2 linked regions of the Homo sapiens genome follow. The protein of the gene in region 2 interacts with the protein of the main gene of each other region in a pairwise test. Each region holds a gene or a part of one and is shown on either strand. Other genes may lie near its edges.

Region 1 (4,255 bases), on a different chromosome or scaffold from region 2:
CAGCAGAGTAAATTTGGAGGAGCCCACAGTATTGGCAGAGCACAAAAAGGCCCCTGCAGGTTTTGAAGAGCTGTAGGATGTACTTGCGAAATTTCTCCCCCAGAAAAAAGTAGATGATGGGATTAAGGCAGCAGTGAACAAAAGCCAGAGTTTCTGTGGCCTGGATGGCATAGTCCAAGTATCTTTCAAAGGTGCAGTCCTGAAGGACTTCTAGCTCCACCAGGGTCTCTAGGAAGAGCACTATGTTGTAAGGTGTCCAGAACCCAAGGAAGAGGACCACCACGGCAAAGATCATCTTCACCGCCTTGTTCTTCTTCTCATTTTTACAATGCTGCAAGGTCCTGATGATCATGGAGTAGCAAAACAGCATGATCCCTAAGGGGATCACCAATCCGAGAATGTTGATTTCCAGGGAGCTGAGAACCTTCCACGTCGTGGAGTTGAGAGAGTACTTGGTTTTGCAGTAGGTATGGTTGCGCTCAGTATAACAAGTGCTGAACAGAAAGCCAGGAAGGGAGGCGAACACAGCCACTGACCATGTAGCCAAACTGGTGATGACCCCATAAGTCAAGGTCCTTGCCCTCAAGGAAAACACCGCGTGCACAATTGCCAGGTATCTATCAATGCTCATGAGCATGACAAAGAATATGCCACTGTAAAAGCCCACCAAGTACATCCAGGAAATCATCTTGCACAGACCTAGCCCAAAAACCCACTGGTCTGCTGCATAGTAGCCCCAAAAAGGGAGGGAAAACACGAAGAGCAGATCCGAGATGGCAAGGTTGAGCAGGTACACATCAGTCATGGACCTGAGCCGCTTGTATTTGAACAGGACCAGAACCACCACAGAATTTCCAAGCAGACCAAATACAAAAACCAAGGAATACAGTGGGGGCAGGAAGAGCTCCCCAAATGCCTTGATGCCTTCTTTGGTGCAAGGCTTGGGGATACTTTCATACAGATAGTAATTGCTGTATATGCTTTCATCGAGGGTGGTGTCTGCTATATCCGTGGGGTTCATTTTTTAACTCTACAGGCTCCTCAAGGCAGGTCTGGGCCCAACCAGAAGCAGCTAATGAGGGGAAGAGCAAAGGAGATTTCTGTGAGAACAAAAATAAACCAAAGTATTGCTAAATGCAGAGCATGGCTGCGTACTGTTTTGCTCCAGGTCTGTATATGCCTTTCCCAAGATGAAGGGCTCGATTACTCACAGGGCCCTGCAGCCAGACGAAATAATTTTGGGCTTTGGAGGCAGAAAGATTTGTTTCAGATTCCAGCTTGGGCACTCACTAATTTTCTTACCTCTCTGCCAGGAGCTTCAGTTCTCTCATTTGTAAGTGAGGATCGTAAAACCCCCTTTCAAGCAGGTGTTCTTTGAGGATGTGTTTCAAAAAGATATTTCATAGTCTGGGGTTACTGAAATCACTTTCAGGGATGACAAAATCAGTTGAACAATTCTCAATTGGGTGTATTTTATATGATCATGATCATCATCAAACTGCACGTAAAAATCAATTCTACGCACAGAATCCTATTAGAGTGGGAATTCACCTGATGGATCTAGAAAACACACATCACAGCCAGAAATAAAACCTCTACCTCCCCAACCACCTTCACTTCCTATCTAAATTGGCAGATAAAGAGGTTGAAATCTTCTTAAAATTAATCACATGCTGACATGTGTATCAGAGCAATTCAGGGCTGAAGGGCTTTCCGACTCAAGGCCACTCCCTTGCTTCCTTCTTGAGGCTTTTGTGGGACCCTCACATTCCTTGTTAAAATCCTTTTCACATTCGTCAGTAAATTCACATTCGATCTCTCCCCACACCCCCACCACCACACACCCAATGCCCAAACTGTGTTTCTCAAGAAAGGGCTTTTGAAGCCAGGTGTGCAGTGGCCCACGCCTATAATCCCAGCACGTCGGGAGGCCGAGGAGGGAGGATCACTTGAGCCAAGGAGCTCCATGCCAGCGTGAGCAACATAAGGAGACCCTGTCTCTACAAAAAATTGTTTTAAAAGTTAGCTGGGTGTGGTGGTACGTGCTGATAGTACCAGCTACTCAGGAGGCTGAGGCAGGAGGATCCCTTGAGCCCAGGAGTTCAAGGCGCAGTGAGCTATGATGGCACCATTGCACTTCAACCTGGGCAGCAGAGTGAAATCCTGTCTCAAAAAAAATAAAAAATAAAAAGGAAAGAAAAGAAAAAGAAAAAAAGAAAGAAAAAAGATTTTGGTTTACTCATGCAAATAGATACTGAACACCTGTTACATCACAGAGTCTCCAAAAAAGTTTGTTGAATGACTAACAATTCTAGTCTTTCTCCACCATTTTACCAGTGAAAATGAAAGGCATAAACAAGGCTGAGGAGTTAGGAAATTATCAGGAGAACAAAAAGCCAGGAGACACAGCTGGTAAGTGTCTGGAATTATTCTGTAGGCCTTGCGTGTGTGGTATTTCTTGCCTGGGAGTCTTGCTAGAAGCAAGAAGCAGACAAGTGTATATTTTTTATGAAAATGATCTATTTATTTGGGGCATGTGGACTCAGGCCAGATGTGTGCAGGAAGAGAGTCCTGCATAAATTAGTGCCCATCAGATGAGGGCTCAGAGGGTGTGGGGACAGGTAGAAGGTGTGTGGGCTGCAAGGTAGGTGCCAAGTGTAAGCCCTAGACTCGTGAGGGGCCTGAGCATCTCAGCCAGGTCCAGAAAGCAGTGTGCGACCCAAGACCCTGGGAATGTCCCCGTCCCTGCTTACCTTGCTTTTCTGAAAGCGGCTCTGAGGAAGGTCTGTGAGGCAATGCCAGGCTTGCTCAGGAAGCACGATGCTAAGAAGGACCCGGTGCCTTTCAAGGGTGCGTGGCTTCCTGTGAGCACGAGTTATCTCCCTCACCCAACTGTACTAAGTTCAAGTGGGGTTTTTTGATAGAAGTAGGAAGCAGAAAATGATTCTTAGTCATTTCCCAAGACCGAAGGCCAAGAAGATGTGCCAAAAAAAGATTAAGAAAAAAAATGAAGTCATTTTCTTTTTAAAAAAGATTTTTAGTTTTTTTAAAAATACAAAAATGTATTTGTTGGTTTTTAAAAAAGAGATTTTTTTAAAGAAACAGGGTCTCACTCTGTCACCCAGACTGGTGTTCAGTGGTGCAATCATAGCTCACCGTAACCTTGAACTCCTGGGCTCAAGTGATCCTCCTGCCTTAGTCTCCCAAGTAGCTGAGACTAGAGGTGCAAGCCACCATGACTGACTAATTTTAATTTTTGGGGAGATAGGGGTCTTGCTATATTGCCCAGGCTCATCTTGAACTACTGGCCTCAAGCAATCCTCCCACCTCAGCTTCCTAAAGCACTGGGATTACAGGAATCAGCCACTCCTTTTTCGCTTTTTAGTTTAAAAAAAAAAATTCCATTTAACTGGCCATATGCGGTAGCAATGATCTCTACATTTTGGATCAGCAACCTGTTTGCTAGTTTCTCATCATGGATATGCAGGGGCCAGCAATCAAGATGTGCAATGTTCTCCTGACAACTGGGATCTGAGAGGCCAGGGTGAGAAGGAAGGCCAGAGATAGTCAAGAAAAAGGATATTCAAGAAGAGAGAAGAGAAAAATTTGTCCAAATGTATGTGTCTGTGAGTGACTTGGAAGGCATCAGCCAACCACATTCTTTGATTCAATAGTTGACATGGCCTCAAACCAGTGTGAAGTGGCCTGGCAACATAGCTTCAAGTCCTTTTGAGTCAGGAAGACCCCTCACCCAAGCGCCTTCTGCTTGGGGATTGCGGAGCTTCATTGGCAGTGGTCTTGGCTGAGGTCTTGATCTTCACTTTGGATGTGGGTAGCAGTCATAAGCGAGGGGCTGACATGAGCCCTAAGTCTCTCATAGCCTCAGCTTTTTGGCAACTTCCAGATGCTTTCCCTGTGTTTCAACTGTTGCTTAGCTCTTTGATTCAGCTTAAAAGAGCCATAAAGATCATTCTTTCTAAGGAATTGGCATAAATAGAAATTAAAACACTGAGCTAGAATGGTGTTAGGGAACCCCTTCTTTTTTTTCATTATCACTTGCCCCAAGGAGTCTTTTGAGACTTTTTTTCCTAACACTCCCTCATAAAATTTTAATGCTACAAACATACCATATATCTATTTATACAGTGTATGTATATCTGTGCTTTATACATAAAATGAGTATGAAATTTTTCTCCCTCCAAGAGCCAAGTTTTATCTTGGGGGCAATATTGCCTCTACTGAGAATGCACGAGTT
Region 2 (3,500 bases):
TGGAGGTTGCCGAGAACTGAGATAGCACCACTGCACTCCAGCCGGGGCCACAGAGCTAGACTCTGTCTCAAAAAACAAAAATATAAACAAACAAACAAACAAACAAACAAAACCCCCACAATGCATAAAAGAAGAAATTAACAAATTGGGAAAAATTAAAACTTCTGATTTGGCCAGGCGTGGTGGCTCACGCCTGTAATTCTAGCACTTTGGGAGGCCAAGGCAGGCAGATCACCTGAGGTCAAGAGTTTGAGACCAGCCTGGCCAACATGGTGAAACCCCGTCTCTACTAAAAATACAAAAAATTAGCTGGGTGTGGTGGCACATGCCTGTACTCCCAGCTACCCAGGAGGCTGAGGCAGGAGAATCACCGGAACCTGGGAGGCGGAGGCTGCAGTGAACCAAGATCGTGCCACTGCACTCTAGCCAGGGCGACAGAGTGAAACTCTGTCTCAAAAAGAAAAACTAAATAAAGCTTCTGGTTTTCAAAAGAGAAGCCACAGACTGTGAGAAAATATTTGCAAATCATGAATCTAATAAAGGATGTTGTTTCAGGGTCTAATATCCAGCATCAATAAGGAACTTAAACAAACTTACAAGAACAAAACAACCCCCATTAAAAAGTGAATATAAAAAGGACATGAACAGACACTTTTCAAAAGACAAGCATGTGGCCAAGAAGCATATGAAAAAAAGCTCAACATTACTGATAATTAAAGAAATGCAAATCAAAACCACAATGAAATACCATCTGACACAGTCAGAATGGCTATTATTAAAAAGTCAAAAAATAACAGATGCTGGTGAAGTTGCAGAGAAAAAGGAACATTTATACACTGTTGGTGGGAGTGTAAATTAGTTCAACCATGTGGGAGACAGTGTGGTGATTCCTTAAAGACCAAAAAACAGAAGCAGCATTTGACCCAGCAATCTCATTACTGGGTATATATACCCAAAGGAATATAAACCATTGTATCATAAAGACACATGCATGTGTATGTTTACTGCAGCACAACTCACAATAGCAAAGACATGGAATCAACTTAAATGCCCATCAGTGGTAGACTGGATAAAGAAAATGTGGTACGTATACACCATGGAATACTATGCAGCCATGTTCCTTTGCAAGAACATGGATGCAGCTGGAAGCCATTATCCTTAGCAAACTAATGCAGGAACAGGAAACCAAATACCGCATGTTCTCACTTATAAGTGGGAGCTAAATGATGAGAACACATGGACACATACAGGGGAACAACAGACACTGGGTCCTATCAGAGGGTGGAGGGAGGGAGAAGGGAGAGGATCAGGAAAAATAACTAATAGGTACTAGGCTTAATACCTGGGTGATGAAATAATATGTACAACAAACCCCATGACACACGTTTACCTATATAACAAACCTGTACAGGTACCACTTAATTTAAAAGTTTAAAAGAAAAAAAAAAAAGATGTTTCCAGAATATATAAGAAAACCACCTGAATTTTTTTAAATTGGCAAAAGATTTGATCAGGCCTCACCAAAGAAGATATACAAATAGCAAACATGCACATGGAAAGATCATTAGTCACTAGGGAAATGTGAATTAAAATTACAATGAAAAACTACTACACATCTATTAGAATGGCTAAAATTAAGACTAACCATATCAAGTCTATTACAATGTGGAACAAGAACAACACTCACGCTGCTGGTGGAAATGTAAAATGCTACAATCACTTGGAAAAAAAATTTGGCACTTCCTTAAAAAGTTAAATGTACACCCACCTTATGATCTAGCCATTCCATTCCTAGATATTTGCCCAAGAGAAAGGAAGGCATGTGCCCATACAAAGACTGTTCACAAATGTTCCATTTTATTTGTAATTGCCCCAAACTGGAGCCAGCCAAAATGTCCATCAGTAGGTGAATGGATAAACCAGCTGTGATACATCCACACAATATGTGTGGGAATATGACTCAGCAGTGAAAGAGAATGAACTATTGACACACCTTTCAACATGGATGAATCTCCAAATAAAGATGTTGAGTGAAAGAGGCTAGACAAACAAAAAGTACTGTATGATTCCATTTATATAAACTCTAGAATCAAACTAATTTATAGTGGCAGAAAGGTCATTGTTTGCCTAAGGCTGTGGGGGGCGGGTAGGGGAAGAGGCAGGGCTAGGGGCTAGAGGAAGGGATTACCAAGGAGCATGAGGAGATTTTGGGGTGTGATGGGTATGTTTGTTGTCTTGATTGTGGTAAGAGTTTTACCACACTTTAAATACGTCAATAAAGCTATTAAAAAAAATGGCACAGAGAGATTAAGTAACTTGGCCAAGGTCTCACAATAATAACAAAATGCCATCAAGTAGACATACCATATTTAATGACTACCCTATTATTGGATATTGTGTTGTTGTCAATTAGAAATAAAGCTGTGATATAATCACTCTGTGTTGGGTATCTTTATACTGAAGCCTATTTCCTTTTTCCTTAAGCCAGGTTTCGAGAAGTAAAATTACTAGATGGGCCAAAAAGTATGTACATTTCGAAGGCTATTAAACAAGAGGGTTTCCAGGAAGCTTGTAACAAGACCCATGTCTCTCAGTCACTTCTGTAGCCCATTTTTTACCAGCACACTTCCTTATCAGGAAGGGGTAAGTAGATTCCTTTTTGCCTCTCATTTTTGCTCACGAATTCCCCATTCCTGACTTCCTGTGGAAACGCAAAGGGTTCCCCTGACCTATTATGACCCATCTCTCCCCTGGTGGCTGTGAGGCTTGAGGACAGCAATGGCAGGGAGTATCTTCTATGACTGTGGGCATTGGTCCTGTCCACTCTGCAATGCCCTTGGCTAAAATCATCTCCCTATGAGTCACTTGCACCAGGGGCAGTGCCCCACCTGCTCCCAGAGCCCGGAAAAGTGCTACTCTCACCTGTTTCTTGGTGTCCACTTCCAGAATGTCCATCAGGTTGATCATGATGTTTTTGTGTGTCTTCTTGTACTTCCCGACACGTAGTGAGACAGTGAGCCAGCCAGGGCGCCCCGTGCACATGAAGGTCTTGCTACCCTGCTCCTTCCATTCCCGCACCTGCAACCACAGGACAGAGGGTGAGCTGGCCCCACTGGGAATCCCCAGAGCAGCCTGCAGCCCTGCTTTCTTCAAGGGCGAGCTGGGAATGATGCCTCCATCAGGCACTGGAGAAACAGAACAATGAAAAGGCCTGCTGGCCCTACCCTCTGGCACCTCCCTGGCCAGCAAGGCTGACAGAAAAGCCAACATATTGCTACACCACAAGGCAGAATGATGAAAGAGCTAGAAGAGAGGATCGAAGTGTTCTGAAAACATTAACTCTAGCTGGGAAGTTCAGAAAAGGTTTTGTAATGGTGATAATAGCAAGTATAAAAATGAGGACCATTTACTGGGTATTCCCAACACACTAGGCATCTACTGCACACTGTCTTGTGTAATTCCTACAACAGTCCCAGGAAGTTACGATGACACCCTTTTTT

What was found. The genes of interacting proteins can lie anywhere in the genome.
Region 1: the proteins of DHCR24 (region 2) and CCR4 interact in a two-hybrid assay, tested with the Homo sapiens proteins (one large-scale study listed by BioGRID and IntAct).

The regions. Positions count from the first base shown.
Region 1 is NC_000003.12:32,950,189-32,954,443, reverse strand, and holds the start of CCR4 (C-C chemokine receptor type 4), read right to left. Parts: upstream 2,801-4,255; 5' UTR 2,754-2,800; intron 1,101-2,753; exon of another isoform or gene 1,073-1,100; 5' UTR 1,022-1,072; coding exon 1-1,021. UniProt on the Homo sapiens protein: High affinity receptor for the C-C type chemokines CCL17/TARC, CCL22/MDC and CKLF isoform 1/CKLF1. The activity of this receptor is mediated by G(i) proteins which activate a phosphatidylinositol-calcium second messenger system.
Region 2 is NC_000001.11:54,880,696-54,884,195, forward strand, and holds part of DHCR24 (delta(24)-sterol reductase precursor), read right to left. Parts: intron 3,079-3,500; coding exon 2,923-3,078; intron 1-2,922. UniProt on the Homo sapiens protein: Catalyzes the reduction of the delta-24 double bond of sterol intermediates during cholesterol biosynthesis.